7 linked regions of the Homo sapiens genome follow. The protein of the gene in region 2 purifies or fractionates together with the protein of the main gene of each other region. This does not show direct contact. Each region holds a gene or a part of one and is shown on either strand. Other genes may lie near its edges.

Region 1 (3,500 bases), on a different chromosome or scaffold from region 2:
TGTCTCTTCAAGGAGGCCCAGAAAGGAATAGGGATTTGCCAAGGGCCCTATACACCAGACCCGGAGTCTGCAATCCCAGTCAGCCCAAGCTTCCCAAGACCACTGGTCCCTGGAGCAGGTTGGGCAGGGCCCAGCCTCAGAGAAGGATGAGGGGACAGGGGCTCACACTACAGACACCGCAGCTCTCAGGCACCTGGAGGCCTCAGAGGATTGGCACCAACCACCTGGCACAGATGGGGAGACTGAGGCACAGAGCACTTGGCTATGGTCTTGGGGCAAGACAGGTTGAGCTAAGCCTGGGATCTAGACCTCCAGACCCTGTCCTGGGCAGCTTCTCACTGACCTGAAGGTAACACAACAGCAGCTAAGGAGAGATCAGAGGCGCCTGGAGGAGTTCAGGAAGGTGTCCTGTCACCAGCAGCTCTGATGGCCTCAGGACAAGTACCTGCCATTCTATCACCACAGAAGCCCATCTGGAAGGTTGAACAATCCTCATCTTAAACAGATGGGGAAACTGAGACTCAAAGGGTTCAATGGTTGGCCTAAGGCTACACCTGGAGCACTGGACTAATGGCCATGGACCCAGAAAGGTGGTCTGCCTGGGGCCCAGATCACTGATGAGCACGAGATTGGTCACAGCGTCAGCAAAGCAGACAGAGCTCAGGCAGCCCCCGAGGCCCTGCCCCCAGCTGCCCAGCTGGCAGCTCCAGGCTGGCCCACTGGGGGGCAGTGATCACAGCAAAGGCTGACCTCATACCCTGCAGCCCTTTCTCACCCAGGCCCGAGATGCCATCTGGGCAGGAGGAGCCCAAAGCAGGGGCTGAGCTCAGAGGCTGATCCCTGAACCAGGTCAGCTGAGGGGCAGGTGCAGTCACAATCCACAACAATCAAAACGAAGCAACTCCATGTCACACAATAATCATCTGGACAAGAAGCAGGAAGAAAAAGATTAGGTTATTAGGTTGGACCATATGAAATTGCCAGTTTTGCAGATAAAAAAATGGTTGAATACTGGCAATTTCATATGATCCAACCTAATATAAAACGGAAAAACGTACACATGGAAAAGTAAGCATGTTATTTAGAAGTACCAACAGAAATAACAGTAAGACTTTAGGTAGCTATTCTTTTCCCCTATAAGCCTTAACTTTGCAAACTACATACATGTATTCCATTGATAAAAATAAAACTTCGGCGAGGTGCGGTGGCTCATGCCTGTAATCCCAGCACTTTGGGAGGCCGAAGCAGGCGGATCACCTGAGGTTGGGAGTTCGAGACCAGCCTGACCAACATGGAGAAACCCCGTCTCTACTAAAAATACAAAATTAGCCGGGCATGGTGGCGCATGCCTGTAATCCCAGCTACTTGGGAGGCTGAAGGCAGGAGAATGGTTTGAACCTGGGAGGCGGAGATGCGCCATTGCACTCCAGCCTAGGCAACAAGAGCGAAACTGCGTCTCAAAAAGTAATAATAAAAAATAAAGCTTCAATTAAAACAAATCAGCCAATAAATCAATGAATCAATACATCAATGGGGGGGGGGAGATAAATCTTCCTTCCAGAAGAATTCCAAACAATGTAGGTAGTTATATCCCCCTCCCATAGAAGGAGCTTAATTCTTGTCCACTCTGCATCTCCTAAGCCTAGGGGGGTCTAGACTTGGTTACTCACTTCCTCCTGAGGAGCAGGGAAAGGGAAAAGAGTAACTTTACAGTGGAGAGACCTGGCCAACACTATCTTAACCACGTGGTGGAGGTTAACATCAGCTTGAAATCACGTGGCTAGCATGTAACCCCAATAGATGTGATGAGAAGGGCACTTTGCCTGGGGTATTCTTTCTAAAAACCCACAACCCCAGGATAGTCCTAAGAAAAGCATCAGACAAACCTAAACTGGGGGACAAACCTAAATTGGGTGACATTCTACAAGATACCTGGCCAGCGCTCCTCAACTGTCAAGGTCATGAGAAGTCAGAAAAGACTAAGAAGAAAAGCAGAAGACACTGGGGAGATGTGACCTTACATGTAATGTGGACCTCTCGATGGGGTCCTGGTAGAGAAAGAGGCTGTGACTGGAACAACAGGAAATCCAAATCCATTCTAGTGTTTCAGACTAATAGTAACGTATCAGGGTGAGTGTCTTAGTTTTGACAAACACATCACGGTAAAATATAAGATGTTAACAACTTAGGCAACTAGGTGGGGGCTTACAGGAACTCTGTTCTATCTCTGCAACTTTTCTATAAATCTAAAGTGATTCTAAAATAAAAAGTTTATTTAAAAAATAAATGAACTAGCTGGGAATGGTGGCTTGTGCCTGTAATTCCAGCTACTCGGGAAGCCGAGGCAAGGGGATCCCTTAAGCCCAGGAGGTCGACCTGGGCAACAGAGCAAAACTCCAGCTCTTGAAACAGGAAAAAAATTAACAGCAATGACCTATTGTTGTATGTAACAAACTCAAAATATTTTGCTGAGTGAAAGAGAGCTTTGGCAAATGTACACAAAAGATTTGCACTTTTCCCTGTATAATAAATTTTACATAAGAAAATGATACACATGCTGAAATATTTAGCAGGAAATGTACTGATGTCTGCATTTCAATTTGAAATACACTAAAAAAGTAAGATGGACTGAGGGATGATGGAAGAAGTACCTGAAGATGTGAATGGTGGACTCCCGCTGGTGGGTATGTATATGGGTGTCCAATGCTAAAGCTGTCAACTCTGCTGTGTGTGTGGAAATCTGGAGGATAAAGGGGGTGGCGGGAAGAGCCCTGTGAGCGGCTTGGGCACACAGCCCTGGGTGTCATCAGTCCTGAGTGAGCACCCTGCCCCCAGGGAGAGGACACCAGGCTGGCCGAGAGGCCTGGCCCTTTCAGAGGGAAGCCTGTAGCCAGGACAACCTCTTCTGACCTTGGGGCTTTCCATTTGGGCCGTGAGGAGAGCAGGGATTTCCCAGAGGCCCTAGGGTGCAGCCAACACAGCAGCTGCAGACCCAGAGCCCCTTTGCCCAGTCTGGACAGGGGCGAGTTGGGCAAGGGGCTGTGGAATTTGCATGGGCGAGTCAGCGGCTGTGTGATATTAAGTCTCTTCCTGTCCCCTGGGCTGCATTTTCCTCATCTGGAAAATGACAGTAATAGGCTCTAGCTTGTTACCAACAATGCTGGGCTCCTCTAGTTTTTTTTTGAGACGAAGTCTCGCTCTGTCACCCAGGCTGGAGTGCAATGGTGTGATCTCAGCTCACTGCAACCTCCGCGGTTCAAGTGATTCTCCCGCCTCAGCCTCCCGAGAAAGCTGGGACTACAAGCGTGCGCCACCACCCCTGGCTAGTTTTTTCTTTTTTTGTATTTTTAGTAGAGACGGGGTTTCACCATGATAGCCAGGATGGTCTCGATCTCCAGACCTCATGATCCGCCCACCTCAGCCTCCCAGTGCTGGTATTACAGGCATGAGCCACCGCGCCCGGCCGGGCTCCTCTAGTCTTTGTGCCAGTTAGGACCCCA
Region 2 (4,293 bases):
GGTGACTGTTCAACGGTGCCAGCTTCCAGTCATTGTTGCTTAGAATTCCTCACCTCCTACCAAAATGCCTAAAACAACAACCAAGCCAATAAGCTTACAGAGATTGATGGCTTCCAAAGCCAGACCCGATGCTTTACAACTGTGGTGGAAAAAAACATACAGGCTTGCCTGAACACCACCAGGGCCGAGTGACTAATTTGTTTTATTACATTGTTTTTCCCTTCTGTTTTCTCTCTGCCTCAGGAAAGTTGTGTTTTTGCTCGTCGACTCAAGGCCTCGAAGACTTTCCCCACTTTTTTCTATGGCACACAGAGTTCTGCACGTGAACTTCTTGCTGGTTAACTGGATTGCATCAAAATGATTTCTCTGTGAGGTACTATTGCTACCAGGATATCAATTACTATCCTAATGTGGACATTTGCTCTGATATGCATAACAATTGAAAATAGAAATAAGCCTCTCAGGGCAATCATTTCAATTCACAGCAAAATCTCTGCTTCCTTCATCTAAATAAATAGAGTGAGCCTTCAGAACCCACCTGTGCCAGCCTGGCCCTGGGTGAGGAGACACACCAGTTCATTTGCAAAAAGAACCGTGCGCAGAGCCCTTAGTGCATAAAAATCGATCCTGGGGCCCTGTCACGTGGTCTGTCTTGCTTTAAAGGAGGCATAACTTTGGGCAAGCCCTGGAATATGAACTGAGGTTGAAACCTGCCAAGAAAGAAAGAGGACTGTGAAGTCCTGGACAAGGCAATGGTAAGTGCTCTCAGACACCGACAGCTCCCAGACTGGCATGCATTGCATAGGACATCCTGTTGAATGCAATCCTATCCACTCAGCAGTCCTAGGAAGGCAGCAGATTATTTTACAATGGAGAACTTGGAAGCTCAAAGAGGTTAAACAACTTGCCCGGGTTGGTACCACTAGCAGATGGCAGGAAGGATCTGTCTGAATCCTTTCTGTCTGAGGCATGCTCCAAACCGCCTTGCTAAATTGGGGTATATGTACACACATACAGCCTTGGGGTCTCTAGGGTACAGGACATCTGGAAAACTGGTTCACAGCCAGGCTTGGGATCCATGGCAAGACTCAAGGCTGTAGGGACCCCAAGATAATCAACCAGAAAAGCCTGGTAGAAAAGGAGCTATAACTGGGCAGTCCTTAATCGGGACTGTATATCCAAGAAAGAAGTCAGGAGCTTGGGAGCGGGCTCAGCAGCCGGGCACTTGAATCTCCCCTGGTACTATCACCCATCACTGCATTTCTGAGATGTTAGCCCATTTCCAAAGTCTAAACCCAACATTGCTCTAACAGTGGTCTCCCTTAGAAGTCTGCACCAGTCTCCCCATCCCAGACAGTCCCTACCTGGGAACCCAACTCCCTTCCCCTGCCTTTCACCCGCAAACTCTCACCTGAGCCTCTACCCCGGCCAGGAACTCAACACTCATTCCTAGCACCCTGAGGCACTCCCTGTCTCTTTCCCTCCTTACTCTGCCCGGCCCTGCCCTGCCCTGGCTCTTATCCACCCACTTGCAGGCTGCCAGCTCACTCCAAGTCCCAACGCCTGCCAGAGAGGCGATGGGGGACTGGATCGGGGTGCTCTCCGAAACCACAGGCCCCTGAGCAGCGCAGGGCGTGCCCCCCGCAGCGGCCAGCACCCCAGGCCTGGCCTCGGAGCGCTGCTTTCCTGCACTCAAACTTCCCGAAATCTCTGAGGTGCAGAGGTGACTGCAGGCGGACCGCATCTCCCTCGCCCCCTCTCCTGGTTGGCGTGCCCTTCCCTCGCGCCGTGGCGCTCTGAGGGTTAACAAGCAGCTGCAGCCCGGGTGGGCAAGGCTTGAACTTTTCTCTGCGCTCCGCTCCCGCTCAGGGAAGGCAGCAGAGGCGGCAGCCCGGGATCTGGCCGGAGCTCCAGCTGGCTGGACAATAGGGGTGCGGGGGGCTGGGGCCTGCGCCCTGGCGGGGGACACGCTCCGGCCCTTTCGGGCCCGGGGTCTGGGAGCAAAAGGACCCCGATGCGGGTGCGGCCGGCGCCGGCGCCTTTGAGCGACAGCAGCAGCCGGGCTGAGGCTCTCTGCTGCCCCGAGGCGCCTTCCAGCGGGCAGCCGGGCTGTACCAGGGGGCCCGGGCGCCCTGGGAAGTCGGTGGTGCCTGCTCGGCCTCTCCAGCCCCGCATCCCGCAATCCGGACCCGAGCAGCGCTTCGGCCGCTGGGCGTTGGGCTGGGGAAAACCGCGGCTCGTTGGAGTCGCCTCTAACTGAGTCTTTCTCCAATGCACCGAGCCTCCGGAGGAGGGAACCAAAGTTACCCCACTTGATGTGGGCGAGAATGTCGCCCCTGCTAGCAAAAAAGGACTGGGAGCTCTCTCCTCCTCCCGTTAACGAACGTACACACACACACACACACACACACACACACACACACACACACACGCACGCCAGAGTGGGAGCCTGTGTGTGGGGGGTGCCTAGGATCTCTGGGCTCGGAATGACCTCCCTACCGAGCCCCGATCTGTCTTCGCCGCCGCGACCGGAGGCCCCGACCCCCCGAAAGCCCCCTCACCCTGCCCGTGCCGGGCGATCCGAATGCAGAAACGGGGCGCAGAGCGCGCCCGGCAGCCCCTCTTCCCTACCTGGGACAGGAGAACGCACAGAACGAGCGGAGTTCTCGGCTGCATTTTGTCCGACTAGAAGCGCCCGGCGGCGTTTTCATTCATGCACGCGGCTGCACTGAGCATATTTTCCGTGGGAGCCAGGCTTTGAGGAGAGGCTCTGCCTCGCCAGCCAGCCAACTTCCCAAATAGATCAGCAGCAGCATCACGAAAGCATTGGGTAGAGGCTGATGACCAGGACCAATGGCTTTACAAGACGGATTCCTTCCTAACGCTCCCTCGTTTTGCATGGCAGATACGGGGTGAGCACCTCGCGAGGAGCGAGCCCCGCGGAGGTGGCATCCCATTTGCTTCTTTGGACTGTTGGGGCTCAGCCTCACAAATCACGCTGGGCAATGCCAGCTGATTCCACTTTTCCAGAGAATGGAATTGCACGGGGGACTGGCGGCCACTTCCAGCCTAGTGCAAAAAGATTCTCTTTATTAAAATGTTAATAAGATCCACTCTATTTCCAATAAATCAGATAAAATGGCCCCAGCAGTTCCAGCCCTTTCTACGCCTGGCAAGGCTTGGCAGTGGATTTTTTTTTTCTTTTTTCCTTTTTTCCCCCCACTGTGGCCCAAGTCATGATGGTGTTTGGTGCTTCCCTGCCATCTCACAAATCACAAAGATGACAGATCAATTCGAGCTTGCAGAAAAAATTCCATTAAGGGGCAATAGATTTTATTAACTGCTCAGGTGAGAGTCTGACTAGCCACCTACTCCTCAAATGTGCATCTGGCACCAAAGCTGGGATCTGGATCGGAAGGAACTTCTTTTTGTATATGGATGTTACCTTTCAGAAGCTCTGAACTACCTCCAGGTACTCAGAACAGCAGTAGTCACTGCTTAAGGGATTTTATAAATGGGGGGCTTTGGGACTGAGGGTAAGAGGGACATCTAGGTCTGCCTTCCCTAATAGGAATCTAAGAAAATGCAGGGAAGACCTTACTGTATCATTTCCATGCAGCCTTCCCTTAGAAAGAATTTAAGGTGTTTTACAATAAAGGACATTTGTGCAATAGAATTTATGAACCAAAATAGAAAATCTGGGCCAGAAGGAAAAGTTCAGCAAACTGAAATGACAAGCCCAAATTCTAATGTATTTGCTCTGATTTGGATAAGAGCTTCCTGATAGCCAAAGCAATAAAAGAAACATAAGTTACATAGTTTTGTTGTAGAAACATGCATACAATGTCTTTCAGCATTATTTTCCATGGGCTAAATACCGGAATAAATGCATTATGTAACACGTAACATAGCAGGACACTGAGCAATGGACCATGCCAAGATCCAGTGGATGGGGATGTATTTCTAGCATCTGGCACAGGGCCTGGAACATGGAGACAGCAATTAGTGTGTGTTAAAGAAATAGATGGCTAGACTCAATCAAGATGCAGCAGAAGGCAGGGAGGGGCAAGGAGTCTGGAGCCACATTGTCTAGGCACAGCCCCCGGATCTGCCACTTACTTGTAAATTACTCAAACTCTCTGCCTCCATTTGTTCACAGATAAAATGAAAACACAAATTCTACTGAACTCACAAGGTTGTGGTGAGGATTAAGTGATGACATAACCACTGAATAAATATAAAGTGATGTGCCTTTTAAGATTCCTTCATTGGCTGCTGTTTGGTCAGAAGGTC
Region 3 (3,500 bases), on a different chromosome or scaffold from region 2:
AGGGGCGCTTAAAAGTCTTTCTGATTCTTAGAAGTGGCAACTGATTTGTGTGATAGGGGGTGTGTGTCCAATATTTACCCCAAAAAGCTGTAAGCGAGAAAAATAAAAACCAACTGACAGGGTAGCTGTGCAGGGTCCTGGAAATAGAAGGCTGTGCCGGGATGAGGGGAATCCGGCTGGGACTCACTCAGCTCGAGCTGCATAAGTGCTGGGCTCAGTCTGAACAACTGCCCATAAGCTGGGCTCACTTTGAACAACTGGGGCTGCCCAAGAGCTCTGATTTTCAACGGCAAGGGAACATCAAACTATCCAGACACTTTTTCTATGACTACAGAGTACTTTTAAAATTTTCTTTCTTAGAAAATCATTTTTTTTCATGTCATAGATTACTAAAAACTGAATGAAAGCTTTTTAAAAGCCAGCTTCCCTCAATTCCCACTCTAAGGACCAAGACAAATGAGAACATTCTAAAAATCCTTAAAACCCCACCAAGCAGCCTGTGTTGGCTCTACTCTGTTTTTTTTTTTTTTTTATTTTTTTATTTTTTTTAGAGAGAGAGTCTCTCCCTGTCACCCAAGCTGGAGTGCAGTGGCACGATCTCAGCTCACTGCAACCTCTGCCTGCAGGTTCAAGCAATTCTCCTGCCTCAGCCTCCCAAGTAGCTGGAACTACAGGCGCACGCTGCCATGCCCGGCTAATTTTTTGTATTTTACTAGAGACAGGGTTTCACCGTGTTGCCCAGGCTGGTCTCAAAATCCTGAGCTCAGGCAATCCGCCTGCCTCCGCCTCCCAAACTTCTAGGATTATAGGCGTGAGCCACTGTGCTGGGCCTCCTTTTTTGTTTTTTATTTGAGACGAAGTCTTGCTCTGTCGCCAGGCTGGAGTGCACTGGCACGATCTCGGCTCACTGCAACCTCCGCCTCCCAGGTTCAAGCGATTCTCCTGCCTCAGCCTCCCGAATAGCTGGGACTACAGGTGTGTGCCACCACGCCCAGCTAATTTTTGTATTTTTAGTAGAGACGGGGTTTCACCATGCTGGCCAGGATGGTCTTGAACTCCTGATCTCAGGTGATCCACCCGCTTCAGCCTCCCAAAGTGCTGGGATTACAGGTGTGAGCCACCGCGCCCAGCCTCCTTTTTTTTTAAGTAGAGACAACAACTCACTGTGTTGCCCAGGCTAGTCTTGAAGTCCTGGGTCCAAGCCATCCTCCTGCCTTGGCCTCCCAAAATGCTGGGATTACGGGCATGAGCCACTGGGCCTGGCCTGACTCTACTTCTTTATAGCCTGGAGGTCTAATGGGTGCCGCCTGAGAGGAGCCTAACTCCTATCATACTGCCCTATCATCATGGGCCATCTACACAAAGGGGAAAAAGAGCTTGGTGGCCATAGTGTATCCCTAGAGTCAGCACTGCCTAGCCTCCTGCCGCACAGTCCCAGAAGGCGCAGCAGGAGGAATACAGACGATTGTGCTCCTGAAAAGGAACCAAGACTTGTCTTCGGTGGTTACCAGAAGACCAGCAGTGTCGTCCCAGCATGGGGCAGAGGGTTAGAGGGTAACATTTATCTTGTATTTGTCACCTAGTGAACTTCATCTCCCAGGAGAGTCTAGCTCTAGACCTGGTCTACTTAAAGCAAAACATTTTTATGTGCTCCAAAATCTTACGGAAAGGCCTATTTACAGAAAGTTTCTCCCAACGTTTAATAAGACACATTTGTTGAGGCCGGGCGCAATGGCTCACGCCTGTAATTCCTGCACTTTTGGAGGCCAAGGTGGGCAGATCACGAGGTCAGGAGTTCGAGACCAGCCTGGCCAATATGGTGAAACCCCATCTCTACTAAAAATACAAAAAGTAGCCGGGCGTGGTGGTGCACACCTGTAGTCCCAACTACTCGGGAGGCTGAGGCGGGAGAATTGCTTGAACCCGGAAGGTGGAGGGTGCAGTAGGCTGAGATCTTGCCACTGGACTCCAGCCTTGGGGACAGAGCGAGACTCTGTCTCAAAAAAAAAAAAAAAAGACACATTTGTCAATGTCTTACTACCAAACTTTTTAACAATACAAAAGATGAAGTCATAATCACAGACAAAGCTGAGCTGCTCGGTTCTGCAAGGACTTGTTCAGAGGGTAAAAGAACCAGTTCTACGGTGCTTCCCTCTCGCCGACGTTTCCAATTCCATCCTGCCCGGCTCTCAAACTTTGGCTCAGGAAAGAGTGTATTTTTGACAGTGCAGGTCTTCCTGCAAGGCAGGGTATGGAAGGCATTTGGGGGAACTGTGTTTTAAGGTTCTCATTTAAACCACTCTTCATTTCAGGTGCATCGCCCCCCTTCATCCAGGCCTTACTTACTCCCAAAGCAGAACTGAAGTGCTCAGGGCTGTGATGTAGAAAACCGGGCTGAACCGTTTTAAGCTATCATAGGGTTTAAGTCATTGAAAAGTCCCTTTATTAACACTGCACTACTGAAAATACTCTGCCAGAGGCACTGCTGTCTTTTTAATAGGTCAAAACAAACTGTACTGCACCGAGCAAGTGAAGTCATTTGCCCAAGGATGACGTGTGTCCATGAGGAAAGAGCAGTCCCAGGCCCTTCCTGGCTGCCCGGGGCGGGACGGGAGTGTGCCCGTGGTGACACGTATCAGTCTGTTCAACTTGGGAAAGGTGCCAAATTCTCAGAGTGAGGAGAAACGATGCACTCAAGGGGGCCCCACTCAACTCCAGGGAAGGAGGCCTTGGAAGATATCTTCAACCACACATCAAGACAACGATGGAAACACAGTTTCAACTCCATCCGGTACCTTTGTCGTGATGATGCCAGCCTCCCGCGTAGTAATCCTGAAGGACCTGAGGAGGGGTCCAGGTTTCAAGAATGTAGTCTACCTGATGCTGCTTTCTCCACGTCAAAGACTGACACATGATCTCTCTGGCTTTGTCAATATTAAAATCCCGTGCACGGAGGAACCGAAGAATATGCTCATCTTTTGGAATCTATTAAGAGAAAAAGACATTTCTAAGCAATGTTAAAAGTTGTGAAGGGAACTTTGGGAGGCTGCGGTGGACGGATCGCTTGAGCTCAGGAGTTCAAGACCAGCCTGGCCAATATGGTGAAATGCCATCTCTACTAAAAATACAAAAATCAGCCAGGCATGGTGGTGCATGCCTGTAATCCCAGCTACTCGGAGGCTGAAGCAGGCGGATCACTTGAACCTGGGAGGTGGAGGCTGCAGCGAGCCGAGATCACATTACTGCCCTAAAAAAAAAGTTGCTAAGGGAATAAGACCCTAAAATTCCCACTTTTCTTTTGGAGACAGGGACTCTTATTCTGCCACCCAGGCTGGAGTGTTGTGGCATGATCTCAGCTCACTGCAGCCCCCAACTACTGGGCTTAGGCAATCCTCCCACCTCAGCCTCCTGAGCAGCTGGAACCACAGGCACACGCCACCACGCCCAGCTCATTTTTGTATTTGTAGAGATGTGGTTTCCCCATGTTGCCCAGGCTGGTC
Region 4 (3,500 bases), on a different chromosome or scaffold from region 2:
GTGATTTTAGATACAGTAATGCAAATATAATACCATCAATGTGTAAAGTGAGACTTTTGTTATACTCAACACAAACCAGAACGTATTTGGAATACTATCCACAGTTTTGAACATTACATTTTAAGAAATAGGAGGACTAGAAGTATCTTAAGAAGACCAGAAGATATTTAACCTGGAGAAAAACAGGAAAGTTGACTTAAACATTGTAGAAAAGCAATTAAACTGTTTACCAAAGAGAATCAGGTCAGGCCTGGTGGTTCACACCTATAATCCCAGCATTTGGGAGGCCAAGGCAGGAAAATCACTTGAGCCCAGATGTTTGAGACCAACCTGGGCAACACAGTTGGACCCCGATTCTACAAAAAATATGAAAATTAGTCAGGTGCCGTGGTGCATGCCTGTAGTCCCAGCTACTCAGGAGGCTGAGGCAGGAGGATCCCTCCCAAAAGGTCAAGGCTGCAGTGAGCCACGATGGTGCCACTGAACTCCAGTCTGGGTAATGGAGTGAGACCCTGTCTCAACAAACAAACAAACAAACAAACAAACAAAACCAAAGAGTTAGAATCAGAACCAATGGGCAGGCCATAGAGGGAGAAAGATATAATCAACATTGAACAGCAAAATTAAAAGCTTACTAACAGGAATGTCTAAAGTTTTGTTTTTTTAATTTTAGAGACAGGGTCTTGCTCTGTCACCCAGGCTGGAGTGCAGTGACACAATCATAGCCCACTGTAACTTCAAATTCTTGGACTCAAGCCATCCTTCCACCTCGGCCTCCCAAAGCCCTGGGATTATAGGCATGAGCCACTGTGCCTGGCCTGAGTGTCTGAAGATTTGAATAATCAAACTGACAACCTCAAAAAGTAGAGAATTTGTCTGTCACGGAGAAGTGAATCAACGCTTGGTGGGAACTCGGGTATCTGACAGAAGGTTGACAACATGACCAGGTGCAGTGGCTCACACCTGTAATCCTAGCACTTTGGGAGGCCAAGGCCAGTGGATCACCTGAGGTCAGGAGTTCGAGACCAACCTGTCCAACATGGTGAAACCCCATCTCTACCAAAAACACAAAAATTAGCCAGGTGTGGTGGTGTGCGCTTGTAATCCAGCTACTCCAGAGGCTGAGGCAGGAGAAATGCTTGAACCCAGGAGGCAGAGGTTGCAGTGCCAAGATCGCACCACTGCACTCCAGCCTGGGCGACAGAGTGAGATTCCATCTGAAAATAAAAAGAAGGCTGACTACATGATCCCAAATGAGATTTACTGATGTGATTCGAAACTTGTAGGCCAGGCGCAGTGGCTCACACCTGTAATTCCAACACTTTGGGAGGCCGAGGTGGGTGGATCACCTGAGGTCAGGAGTTCAAGACCAGCCTGACCAACATGGTGAAACCCCGTCTCTCCCAAAAATACAAAAAATTAACCGGGCGTGGTGGTACAAACCTGTAGTCCCAGCTACTTGGGAAGCTGAGACAGGACAATTGCTTGAACCCGAGGGGTGGAGGTTGCAGTGGGCCAAGATCGCGCCACTGCACTCCAGCCTGGTCAAAAGAGCAAGACTCTTGTCTCAAAACAAAAAAACAAAAAACCTGTAACCTCTGACCCCAGGTAGTGCTTAAGAAATAGCACTTTGTAGGCTGGGTGTGGTGGCTTACACCTGTAATCCCAGCACTTTGGGAGGCTGAGGTGAGCGGATTACTTGAGGTCAAGAGTTCAAGACCAGCCTGGCCAATGTGGTGAAACCCTGTTTCTACTAAAAATACAAAAATTAGCCAGGTATGGTGGCGCGTGCCTGTAATCCCAGCTACTCGAGACACTGCGGCAGGAGAATCTCTTGAACCCGGGAGGCAGAGATTGCAGTAAGTCAAAGATCACGCCACTGCACTCCAGCCTGGGCAACAGGGCAAGACTCCATCTCAAAAAAAAAAAAAAAAAGCACTTTGTGACAATAATGAAACAGGTCACAGAAAAAAGATTTGGCTACTTTATAGGACACAGAGCCTATTCCACAGCAGAAACAAACTGGGGAAAAGTTCAACAGTCCTTTTTCATAAGACTTTTCTAAAGTTAATCAAATCCCTCATGTCAGCCTCTCACCTGAAAAGACGCTGTGTGTTTTGATGCTTAAGTGTTGTCAGAGGCCAATTCATCAACAGCAATAGTGAGGTAATGGAATTCTTCATTTATTTGAAAATTCTGTAGTTTGTTAATACACCTGCCCTCTGAGGTTTAAAAGGCACAGATTTTCTCAGACCATAAACTTTCTAACTGTATCAACATGGGATGAAGTGTTTTTTGTTTCACAACACAGTTTGTTCTATAGCCCTTACAGATAACAGTGGGCTCAAATGGTTATCCAGTTGAAAAGATAAGGCAAAATGAAGACACTTTCAAAATGGTGACTGACAATTCACTCAATGAACACAGGAGTTCCTATTGTGTGAAGGTGTATGGTTGGATGCTGTGGGGATTATAGTGATGGCTAAAACTAGAACCCAGCTTTTATGGAGCAGTTTCCTCTAGGGGAGATAAGGTACACCACACATCAACAGCCCTAAAAGGGAATGCCATAGATCTCCCAAGAGAAGAGTGCAATGAAGTTTAAAAGGATGACTTTTGGCTGAGTAGAATCAGAGAAAGCTTCATGGAAAATGAAACACTGTACCTGGATCTTAGAAGGATAAGCTGAAGTTGAAGAGGTTGAGACAAAAGACAAAGGGAATGTCCAGCTGATGGAATGTTCTAAGCAAAGGCAGGGCCATGGAAGAGTTCAGGATGTTAAGGTAACAATGAATACCTAGATTGTGGGGAGGACAGGGTATAGGATGCAGAAAACTGAAGCCAGAAAGGTCATGAAGAGCTTTGAAATGACTTGCTAAGAAAAAGTATGGACTTTGCTCAGCAGAGAGTGGCCAGCTACTGGAAGAAGATTCGCTCCTTAGCACTGACCGGAGATGAGTCTCTGAGAAGTTAACCTTTTCTTCCCAGCCTCAATCCTATAATTAAATATACAAATATCACCAGGGCTGGAAAAGGACAAATTTGGTGAATATAGTCATGTACCACATAACAATTTTGGTCAGCAAGAGACCACACATATGAGAGTGGTCCCATAAGATTATAATGGAGCAGAAAAATTCCTATCACCTGGTCTAGATGATCCTGACCTGGTAGAGGCCTAGGCTAATGTGAGTGTTTGAGTCACAGTTTGGTTTTTGTTTTTTTCAGAGACAGGTTCTCACTTTGTCACCCAGACTGCAGTGCTGTGATACAATCACATCTCACTGTAACCTCAAACTCTTGGACTCAAGCTATCCTCCTGCCTCGGCATCCTAAGTAGCTAGGACTACGGGTGCACGCCACTGAGCCCGGCTAATTTTTTAAATTTTTTTGTAGAGGCAGGGTCTCACCATCTTGCCCAGGCTGGTCTCGAATTCCTGGGCTCAAGTGATCTACCTTGGCCTCCCAAAGTGCTAAGATACAGGCACGAGCCACTGCGC
Region 5 (3,500 bases), on a different chromosome or scaffold from region 2:
GAATATAAAGATGAGGTAGAAGGGGCTAGATAGTCACAAAATAAATAATCAGCTTAAGTTGACTCTGCATATATATTGAGGGGTAAGTTTGGAAACCCTGAGTCTGGACTGTGTTCTTGAAATAAGTATCATTTATTGCATTTTTAAAATAGCCACACTACTGAGGACATGTTTTCTTTGGCGTTGTCTCTTTCAGATCTTAAATGCTGCCTATCATGTTGAAGTCACGTTTCACTCAGGGTCGTCAGTTACAAGGATGCTATGGGAGCAAATCAAACAGGTAGGGATTATTACTTAGAGAAAGATTTCAAAGCCCCTAGTTGGCTCAAATGAATCATAGTGACCCCAGTAGGAAACAGATATCTAGGATCTTCTGTTAAGGCAGGGTGACCATTTGTTCTGGTTTGCCTGCCTGGGAGAATTCTGGTTTATGCCTATTCTTAAATAATTATTAACATTGTTCCCTTGAACTCTCAGAAGTTTTGGGTTTAAATGATTTTTATGTTGGGTGCTCTTTGTGGACAATGGAAAAATAGAAAAAAAAGATAAATGATATTTCATGGAGCCATAAGACTCTACCACACTAGCTTCTTCATATTTCTTTTTCCCAGCCTAAATCTTTTCTCAGAACTAGGCTTTGTTGTTGCCAGAGGCTGTGAATGTGGTTTCTGTTCTGGAATTTGATCTGGCTCTTATGTAGAGTTATTTACTGACTTCAGAAAGATTATCAGGCACTCCCTGGCACTGAATGTAATATATTGAGGGTTTGTGAGCATGTAGACTAGGCCTGGTGTTCTTTGATGCTTTTCTCTGGGCTAGGACCTGATTTTGTGGTAGATGGAATTGGAAAGGAACTTTGGACTTCGTATGGCTCCCATCTTATGAGCCTGCTCTTAATGAATGGGTAACCCAGAAAAGGAAGGACACTGGATCTTTGTAGTGGTTCTTGTCTCTCATTCCTTGGTGATCTCGCTGTCTTCATCCTGGTAGATCATCCAGCGCATCACATGGGTGAGCCCACCTGCCATCACTCTGGAATGGAAGAGGAAGGTGGCCCAGGAAGCCATTGAGAGCCTCAGCGCCTCCAAATTGGCTAAGAGCATTTGCAGCCAATTCCGGACTCGGCTCAATAGTTCCCACGAGGCTTTTGCAGCCTCCTTGCGGCAGGTTGGTATGTAGGAAAGGAGATACAGCTGGATCAAGCAGAGAAGAGCCTCATCCAGATGGGAATATTTCGCTCTCCGCTCTTCATATATAATATGTGTGTGTGTCTGTGTGTGTATACATATATATACACATATATATACACACACACACATATGTATATTAAAATCATCAGTATATTTTCTTTCTAGATTGTTATAGGAAGTTTTTTCAATAAATTTTTCATGTGGATATTTTCCTAACTCTCGGGAGAATGGAGTGAGCTCAGTTAATTCCTGCCCATTTCAGAGTGAGGAAAGATAATAGGAGTAGGAATTTTGTATGTTTATATAGTATTTTAGGAACAAATGACAGAAGGACATGACTTTCCAACTTCTATATTTCATAATTGTTTGACATCTGATTGTCCACTGGCGGGGAGTGGGTGTGTCCAGGCAGAGAGTGGATAGATGTGAGTATGCATCCAGGAGGAAAAGTTATTATTTATTGAGAGTCTACTCTGTGCCAGTCTCTGTGCTAAACATGTTACATGTATCTTGTTTAATTCTCACAATTATCTATATGAAGTAGATATTATTATCCCTGTATAACAGGTGAGGAAGCTGAAGCTAGGGACTTAAGTCATATGTACTTTTTCTGTTTCTCTCCCAGCTGGAAGCTGGCCACTCAGGCCGGTTAGAGAAAACGGAAGATCTATGGCTGAGGGTTCGGAAAGATCATGCTCCCCGCCTGGCCCGCCTTTCTCTGGAAAGCTGTTCTTTACAGGATGTCTTGCTTCATCGTGAGTCTGGTTTTCTTCTAGATAAACTGGAGGATGGTTCAGGATACCTGACATTCTTATGTCCAGCCTCAGAGAATCCTAGTGTCTAAAGCTGCTTCTTTGCAAAGCTGCCTAAACCCTTACTGATGTTTTTGAATTCCTAAAGTCTCTTCCTGCTATTTATATAGTTCAAATAACATGACCAGGCCAGGTGTGGTGGCTCACACCTGTAATCTTAGTACTTTGGGAGGCTGAGGTGGGTGGACTGCCTGAGCTCAGAAGTTCAAGACCAGCCTAGGCGATATGGCAAGACCCCATCTCTACTAAAAAAATTAGCTGGGCGTGGTGGCACTTTGCAACCCCAGCTCCTCAGGAGGCTCAGGCAGAAGATTCACTTGAACCCAGGAAGTAGAGGTTGCAGTGAGCCAAGATCATACCACTGCACTGCAGCCTGGGTGACAGAGCAAGACTCTGTCTCCAAAAAAAAAAACAACAAAAAACAAAAAACCACATAACCACAGTTTATTTGAATTAAACCAGTTAGATTATTTTCTATTGGGTTAGAATGACACTAGAATTTTATCCCTGGGCTTGATTACAGCTTCCTGACCCTAAAGGCAGGTTCACAATGAAGAATGTTACAGGGCCAGCATGGTGGCTTATGCCTGTAATCCCAGTACTTTGGGAGGCCACGGTGGGTGGATCACTTGAGCCCAGGAGTTCGGGACCACCCTGGGCAATGTGGCAAAACCCCGTCTCTAATAAAACTGTAAAAATTAGCTGTGCGTGGTGGCGTATGCCTGTAATCCCAACTACTTGGGAGCCTGAGGCAGAATAATCGCTTGAACCCAGGAGGCAGAGGTTGCAGTGAGCAGAGATCATGCCACTGCACTCCTGCTTGGGTGACAGAACAAGACTCTGTCTCAAAAAAAAAAAAAAAGAATCTTACAGAGGTTGCCCACGAAGTTCCCATTCCTCCTGCCTTATCTCTGTCTCTGTACCTTATAGGTAAACCTAAACTGGGACAGGAACTGGGCCGGGGCCAGTATGGTGTGGTATACCTGTGTGACAACTGGGGAGGACACTTCCCTTGTGCCCTCAAATCAGTTGTCCCTCCAGATGAGAAGCACTGGAATGATCTGGCTTTGGAATTTCACTATATGAGGTGGGTCCTGGCCTCATTCATCTCTATGAGAAAGATCCAGAGAAGAATCTAGAACCCTGGTTTAGATTTTGTACCAAGAGCTACAGCATGGCCTCTCTATATTTAGTTTTCTGTGTCTAACAGACATGTGCTCCCTTTCAGGCCTTTACTGTCTTTGCTTGCTCTTTCCCCACCATCCTAATTTCTCAGACTCATCATTCCATTTAACTTTCTTCTTTAGTCCTTAAGCCTTATCAGTTTTTAGAATCCAGGATTCTTCATCCTTGTTGAAGAGGCCATGCTCTGTCTGTACTGAGGGCTCTGTCTGCACTGAGGGCCATTACCTCTGGACCTGTCCTAAGCATGGTCTGGAAATTATTGTCTCATACATTGTGGCATGGCATGCAGGATTAGAGCCCAAGCCTTGTAGCC
Region 6 (3,500 bases), on a different chromosome or scaffold from region 2:
GCAAACTGTATAATACTTGGTGAGGTAGATTAGGCCAAACCATAACAGCTTTTTCCACAGTTGGTTTTAGTTTTGAATGGATTGTCATATATATAGATAATTTTATGTTAGTATATACAAGTGTAAGAAATTTCCCTACTGAAAAAGGAGCAAATCAAGCAATATTTCAGGAGTAAATCATCTAGTGGCATCTATATTAATATTAAGGAAACACATAGCTTACTCTAAAAACAACTCTCACATTTCATTCTACAACCATTTGAGCACTGATTTAGCCAGATACTTTCCTAGGTGCTAGGTATTCAACACTGAACAAGACAGACATTCACCTCAGGTACAGAGAATCATAGTTGGGATGAGGGTGGATAAAAAACACAACAACATATTTTACAAAGATGGGATAGCTCTGGGGTTATGGACCTGCTCTTCTAGATGGAGGGAGTAGGAGACATTTCTCTGAAGGGACGCCTCTAGGTGAGATCTGAATGATAGAAGGAACTAGCTTAGGCAAAGAGCAGAGGGAAGATTATTCCCAGGAATGGGTATGGCATATGCATAAGCCCCAGTTTGGAAAGGAGCTTGGTGTACTTAAGGAGCAGAATGGTGACCAGGGTCAAGCATAGTGAAAGGGAATGTAGGATGAGCTGAGTAAGAGGGGCAGGCTGAAGCCAGGTCATGCAGGGCCTGTGGCCACAGGAAAGAAGTTGGAAGTGATCAGCACACACAAGGAGAAGGTGACCCTTAGGAGAGGAGATTGGAGAGGGCAAGAATGGATGAAGTGAGTTGAGGCTTAGAGTGGTAGCTTGTGTCAGGTGGCAGCAGTGGGGATGTGGGGATGGAGAGGCTGAGTGGATTTTAAATATGTTATGAAGGTAGGCTTGGCCAAGGTGAAGGAGAAGAAGGATTCATTAATAAAAACTTACAAGTTTCTGGTTTGAGTACATGATGGATCTTGGTACTTGTTATTGCCTTGGGCAAGAGAAAATTAAGGATTCTGTATAAATCTTGTTGGGTTTGAGATGCAGACTTTGTAGAACTGTCACAGTGGATGCTGTATTAGTCCATTCTTGCATTGCTATAAAGGAATACTTGAGACTGGGTAATTTATAAAGAAAAGATGTTTAATTGGCTCATGGTTCTACAGGCTGTACAGGAAGGATGATGCTGGCATCTGCTTGGCTTCTGGGGAGGCTTCAGGAAACTTATAATCATGGTGGAAGGCGAAGGGGAAGCACATAACATCACATGGCCAGAGTAGGAGCAAGAGAGAAGGATGGAGGTGCCACACACTGTTAAACAACCAAATCTCCTGAGAGATCACTCATTATCAAGAGAATAGCACCAAGTGGATGGTGCTAAACTATTCATGAGAATCCGCCCCCATGATCCACTCTCTTTCCACCAGACCCCACCTCCAGCATTAGGGATTACAATTTGTTAGGAATAATGCTTACAATTTTAAGAAATTGAACACTTGAACAAAGGATATTTAGCAAAGCAATTTTATTTTTGCGCAGAGAGGTGCCTTTTTGGCCAGTCGCCATGAGAGCACACTTGAACAAAGGAGTACGAGAGCCTTTATTTTTGACGCAAGTCTTGCCCCTGTATCCTTTTTTTATTGGCTGGGGTCAGGTGTATAAACTAATTTTAGTTGGCTAAACATTTGAATTTTTTTAGATAAGGTGGGCACATAGAAGAAAGAGGAAAGGGGAAAGGGTGTCTGTAGTGAGTCAGAAAGTTGTTTTTTTTTTTTTAAATAAGGAAAGGAATGTGAGTTGGTACTGATAATGGCTGGTATTGTGGCATGCCTGCGCATTTAACAAAGGCAGAAAGGAAAAAGGAAAAAAAGAGGGGGTGGTTAACTCTGAATTAAAAGATTGATTAGGCTATTTGAAGGGAAACCTTATCATATCTCACAAATTGAACATACGATTTGGGTGGGGATACAGATTCAAAGCATATCAGATGCATGGAAATGGGTCCCCATGAAGAATTCAGGAACACAAAAAAACCTACAGACAATGTTGAGGTGAGGGGAACACCTAGAAAGAAGGAAAAAGAGAAGAGTACTTGGGGATGAGTCATGGGCCACCCCCAAATTAAGAAACTGTGTTGAGAAGTCAGCCAAAGGAAACTGAAAATGAGTACCAGAGAGGCAACATGAAAACCAAGGTCTGCCATTTTCCAGAAGCCAAATGAGTGTTCAAGAAGAAGGGCGTAGTCTCTTGTATCCCATGTTACTAAGAGGCGAAGGGAGATCAGGTCTGAGACATGGACATTGAATGAAACATGGTGAGGTCATCATGGCCTTGACAATCTGTTCCTGTAGTGGTGAGGGTGGAAGCCAGATTTTAATCGATTAAAGGTACAGTAGAGAAGAAACAGCATGTGTAGAGTAATCTGGAGAAATTTATCTGTGAAGCTGGAGGGTCATGTGAGGTCCAGGGATACTCTTTTTAAAGGGTAAAAGAGAGTAGAGCATGTTCATATGCCAGTGAGACTGTTCTAGGAGAGAGAGAGAAGTTGCTCGTGCAGGAAGGGAGGATGAGAGAAAGAACCAAGTCCTAATAAGACAAAATGGATAGGATCCAAGGCACAAGTGGAGGAATTGGACTGTGATAAGAGAGTTAGACTTTTCCTGTCATAACAAGAGAAGGTGGATGCAGGTGGACACCAGGCTCAGATTTGGTAGTGGGAAGATGAGAGAAAGCACATGGTGGCTTCTGATTTCACAGTGACATATGAGGAGTGCTTGTTAGCTGAGTACATGGGGATGGGAAGATGTGTACGTTTTGAAGAGAAGGAAAAGGAAATGAGCTATTTTCTTAGAGCTTAGAAAGTGCTGGACAGTATTACGTGTCCACTTAGGTTTGGGACTATGAAGCAGAAAGAACTGTCATCTGGTTATGTGATGTTTTTTCCCTGGAGACATTCAGCTGCTCAGTGTTGAGATTTTTGCCGGGTAGGCACAATGAAAGGAGAAAGGGCCAAGGAGTTGGAATAGATTTACAGCAGAGTGATTCAAATGATAGCCACTGAATCTAAGCTCTGTAAGAACAGATATGAATCTGGGAGAGGGGGCAATATTTAGCAAGAAGTGGAGGGAAATAGACCAGTCCTCCTGACCTGATTTTCATTTTTTTTTTATAGTATATATGATCACTGTTTCTTCTCTTTATTTTTTTTTAAGGATGTCTGGAATGGCTGGTCTTTTTAGCATCTCTGGCAAGATATGGGTAAGTAATCTTAAATAAAACGTTTATATTTGCAGAGAGGTTAAGAATAAAAATACAGCTTTTAAGCAATAGGAAAACAAACATTTATAAGTACATTTATAATTTCACTTTTTTTCTTAAGCCATGCAACTACTCTCATGTGGGGTTTCCAGTGGTAATGTCGTCATGTAGAAGGGCATAATCTGAACAGTAACCTGTAACTACTGTGTCGAGGTCTTATTTTCTTAAATCAGTGGTGAAGTCTTTCATCCAAGCAAAACGGCT
Region 7 (3,694 bases), on a different chromosome or scaffold from region 2:
GGATGTATATAGCTAATCGTGAACAATTGCATGCCTGCTAATTCAATTGCCTAGAATTCCAGTCATTAGCCAAGCAGTCTTCCAAATTAAAACATCCGGTCTCCTTCAATTTTCCACTTAAACCAGAACACAGGAGAATAGATTTGACCGATCAACTTAGGATAAAATTACACACGAAAAGTGACTTACGGTATATGGATTAGTAGTTGTACAGTGTATTTTTAACAACCTATGCTGCCACGTAGTTTCATGATTCATGAGTTTCTAGGGAATTACCTCAACATTCTTGATGTAGATTGTGAAAATGGGTCGCATTTTTTAAATGTGCATTTAGTATCTTCTTAAGTGACTAGAATGCTTACACATTTTCCACTCGAGTGATTTAAGGCATTCTAATAATTTCATAAACTCCGAATAGAATTGATATTAAAGATGCCAGGTATGATACATATTTAGAATCTATACACTACATAATCACAATAAAAAATACACACAAGAAATTCTCAGTTCATATAATTTATTGCAGTTAGCACACAGTTTAAAAATTCACCAACACACCAATAGTACAAAACTAAACAGCATTATAAGTTATTCCCCCTCAGGAAAATAAAACATACTATGATTGTCAAAGCTAGATGTCAGTCTAAGTTTTAGAACAAAGGAAGAATGTGAAACTAAGAAAAGGAAAAAGCAATCACTCACAATGACCACAAAAAGAAAATCCAAAAGAAAGTCCGTTTTCTCACAGACATTGATTGTCTTCTCTAAATTAATAAAAATTATTTTAACATAAACTGTATTTTAAAAAAACTAGAAACTCTTCAAGTAACTAAAGATAATGCTCCAAGGCCATTTTCACAGCTTTTTTTGTTTGTTTGTTTGCTTTAAATGCCATTACAGCCAAATTAACACACATTTAACCAAATATTTCCAAAACAGTCCAGCAACACACAATGGAGTTTTCCATTCAGTATCTTAAGCACAAAAATAGGCTATGTTTACAGTAGTTAAGGCGATCAAATTTTAAACAAAAGCAATTAAAAAAAAAAGGGAAAAACAGCAAACGTTTTCCATGCTACTCCCATAGACCTTATTTGTAAGTGCAAGACAGGAAAACAAACACTGTGCAAAATGCTTTTGCCTTGCGTGCTGGTCATTAAAACCACACGTTAGGCTGCAGCCTCTGCTGCCGCAATCCACATAGTCTACTAACCCCCTTCCCCATGTCAATCAAGGCAGTCCAGTCCTTTCAGCCTGGGGCTTTTTCAGTCCATAGAATCTTTTCATGAGTTGGGGGTGGAGGGTGGTGGTGGGGGGGGAGAGTAAGGGAGGGAGGGTAAGGAGGAAGGGGAGAAAAAGAAAAAGGGAGCAAACAAAAAAAAAGAGAGAACGACCTATTGTCAACTTGTGCAGTAGTTATTCTAAGAACGCTCAACTGGGTAAATGTGTACACCTAAACTCTGAGCTGGCATGGGTTTTGTGCAATTAGAAGTTTGTTATAAATGCACACTGCACATGCAAATCTTTAAGCTGTTTGTAAACATTTATATTTTCCTTGTTATGTAGCGAAGTTATCAATTTGCAGCTTAAGTTTTTATTCAGCTTAACAGTTTCAACTTAAAGACAGTGGGAAAGTCAATTTAAATTATATAAAATAAAAATAAAAACAGTGCATTTACGTTCTTCATAACACCAGTTTTTTTTTCCAAATGGTGTTATTTTTCTAAGGAAATTAAATAATTTTAAACTCACTCGTTAAAGTTATACAATGCAAACAAAGACAAAAAATATATTGAAACTCATGCATTTCTGTAGCGTTAATATTTACTTTTCAAGACTCAACTAAGAGCATCAACACAACCTGTCAAGTTCTTTGACACCCCCCCAGCCCATGTAATCAATTACAGTATACAATAACAGTAATTCACATTTTTAAACACACAGTTCAACACTGCTGAAGCTGCAATATCCTTTTTCATCCCAAGCAAACCTTCATAAGACAGTGTCCCAGTGATCCCAGTGTACTTTCAGCATTTCTCTCACTGGGAACTGTCAGAAAACCAGAAGTTGCCACAGAAAGTTTTAAGTCAACTGCTTGTTTAAAAATAGATAATCCAGCATTTCAGAAATTTTCCATTTGGGTCTAAAAGCATTCAGGTTTCCAACAGCCAGAAAAAATTCATGCAATTTGAGACATATAAAGAGGCTAATAAAACTGGAGGGAATTTCTACTTAAAAAAAAAAACAAAAAACAAAAAAACTTTGTTGGGGGGGAAAAAAGAGCTCAAAAGACAATGCAGTGTTGACAAAATTAAGCCATATGAAAGCATTTTGTGACAGGACGATTTGTTTAAAAGGTTCTTATTGGCTTACTTCCCCTATCCCCTCAAAGGAAAAACACCTCTCTATTCTGACTTGCTCTAAAGTTTCTTTTATCAGAATGCTAAATTAGTGAGATTCTCATGCTATTCTAAAGTGCAAAAACAAGTTAATATCCCAACTTTTTATTTCCAGGAAACAAGACTGCTTTTAGACCGTACCACAACTATATAGAGATCTATTTATATATATGTATATATATATATATTATTTATATATATATAAAATTATTTCCAAAGTTCTTGAGAGCTATCTTCTAAGGTCCAGTCTCTGACAGTAGGCAAGCTCAGTGCTTCGCTTTTGACCGACAAGGAGTTCACCAACTCACAGTGGAACTTGCGAATGTGTCTGTACAGGTCCCCGGACTGCGTGAACCTGCGCTCGCACCACTTGCAGGCGTGCGGCTTCTCGCGGGTGTGCACCACGGCATGGCGGCTCAGGTTGTGCGAGTACTGGAAGCTCTTGCCGCACTGGGTGCATGTGTAGGGCTTCTCCCCCGAGTGAGTCCTCTCGTGGCGCTTGAGGGTGTACATGCAAGAGAAAGTCTTCCCACACAGCGAGCACGTGGGCACGTTGACATCGGCGGCGGGCTTGCTGCGGATGCCGTCCTGCTCGCGGAAGTGCGTGCTCAGGTGGATCTGCAGGATGTGGGGGCTGGGGAAGACCTTGTTGCACAGGGGGCACATGAAGATCTGGCCCGCGGGGCTCAGGATGTTGGAGACGTAGGGGAGCAGACTGCTCTCCATGCCTCCCTCCACCTGGACACGCTCGCTCTCTGGGGTCATCATCTCATCATCACTGGCTTTGTCCTCCCGGTCCAGCTCCCTCAAGACCGAGTCCTCCCTCAGGGGAGCCAGATGGGCCGGCTCATACTGTACCCTGTTATTAGTGCTCACACTTTCTTTCACAGTGCTATGTTCCATGTCATAGTCATTAGTGCCAACATCACTCTCATCACAGGAAGCCTCTTTCTCCACCTTCACCTGCACCAGGTTGCTTCTCAGCACGTCCTGTGAAGAGAAATAAGAGCTGTTCAGATTTTCAACTCCTGAAAGGCTGGACTTGACAGACAGGTCCAGCACACAGTCAACATCTGCCGAATCCCTCACGGAGGTGACAGACCTCTGGGACAAAGACTCTGTTGAGCTGCAGGGGCTGGCTACTGTTTTTCCAGCTGCTGTGGCGTGTGGCTCTGCCTCTCCGCCAGCCTGGGGGATGCCTGCTGAGTCTGAGGGCAATCGCATCCACATGTTCCCAGGCTCGGCCGCCAAGTCCCTTTTGCTGGGCAGGATGTTCAATTTTTCATCTTCTCCTT

The links.
Region 1: the proteins of CDH13 (region 2) and PIGU purify together in Homo sapiens (affinity purification with mass spectrometry; one large-scale study listed by BioGRID and IntAct). This does not show direct contact.
Region 3: the proteins of CDH13 (region 2) and SEC14L1 purify together in Homo sapiens (affinity purification with mass spectrometry; 2 studies listed by BioGRID and IntAct, with this or other methods). This does not show direct contact.
Region 4: the proteins of CDH13 (region 2) and UQCC1 purify together in Homo sapiens (affinity purification with mass spectrometry; one large-scale study listed by BioGRID and IntAct). This does not show direct contact.
Region 5: the proteins of CDH13 (region 2) and DSTYK purify together in Homo sapiens (affinity purification with mass spectrometry; 2 studies listed by BioGRID and IntAct, with this or other methods). This does not show direct contact.
Region 6: the proteins of CDH13 (region 2) and TMX4 purify together in Homo sapiens (affinity purification with mass spectrometry; one large-scale study listed by BioGRID and IntAct). This does not show direct contact.
Region 7: the proteins of CDH13 (region 2) and ZBTB18 purify together in Homo sapiens (co-immunoprecipitation; one large-scale study listed by IntAct). This does not show direct contact.

What each region holds. Positions count from the first base shown.
Region 1 is NC_000020.11:34,562,093-34,565,592, forward strand, and holds part of PIGU (GPI-anchor transamidase component PIGU), read right to left. Parts: intron 1-3,500. UniProt on the Homo sapiens protein: Component of the glycosylphosphatidylinositol-anchor (GPI-anchor) transamidase (GPI-T) complex that catalyzes the formation of the linkage between a proprotein and a GPI-anchor and participates in GPI anchored protein biosynthesis.
Region 2 is NC_000016.10:82,625,476-82,629,768, reverse strand, and holds the start of CDH13 (cadherin-13 isoform 1 preproprotein), read right to left. Parts: upstream 2,801-4,293; 5' UTR 2,712-2,800; coding exon of another isoform or gene 2,677-2,711; coding exon 2,632-2,676; intron 1-2,631.
Region 3 is NC_000017.11:77,199,969-77,203,468, reverse strand, and holds part of SEC14L1 (SEC14-like protein 1), read right to left. Parts: intron 2,986-3,500; coding exon 2,796-2,985; intron 1-2,795.
Region 4 is NC_000020.11:35,349,474-35,352,973, forward strand, and holds part of UQCC1 (ubiquinol-cytochrome c reductase complex assembly factor 1), read right to left. Parts: intron 1-3,500. UniProt on the Homo sapiens protein: Required for the assembly of the ubiquinol-cytochrome c reductase complex (mitochondrial respiratory chain complex III or cytochrome b-c1 complex). Involved in cytochrome b translation and/or stability.
Region 5 is NC_000001.11:205,159,703-205,163,202, reverse strand, and holds part of DSTYK (dual serine/threonine and tyrosine protein kinase), read left to right. Parts: intron 1-196; coding exon 197-280; intron 281-990; coding exon 991-1,167; intron 1,168-1,815; coding exon 1,816-1,945; intron 1,946-2,932; coding exon 2,933-3,089; intron 3,090-3,500. UniProt on the Homo sapiens protein: Acts as a positive regulator of ERK phosphorylation downstream of fibroblast growth factor-receptor activation. Involved in the regulation of both caspase-dependent apoptosis and caspase-independent cell death.
Region 6 is NC_000020.11:7,995,762-7,999,261, reverse strand, and holds part of TMX4 (thioredoxin-related transmembrane protein 4 precursor), read left to right. Parts: intron 1-3,190; coding exon 3,191-3,236; intron 3,237-3,500.
Region 7 is NC_000001.11:244,054,283-244,057,976, reverse strand, and holds the end of ZBTB18 (zinc finger and BTB domain-containing protein 18), read right to left. Parts: coding exon 2,607-3,694; 3' UTR 501-2,606; downstream 1-500.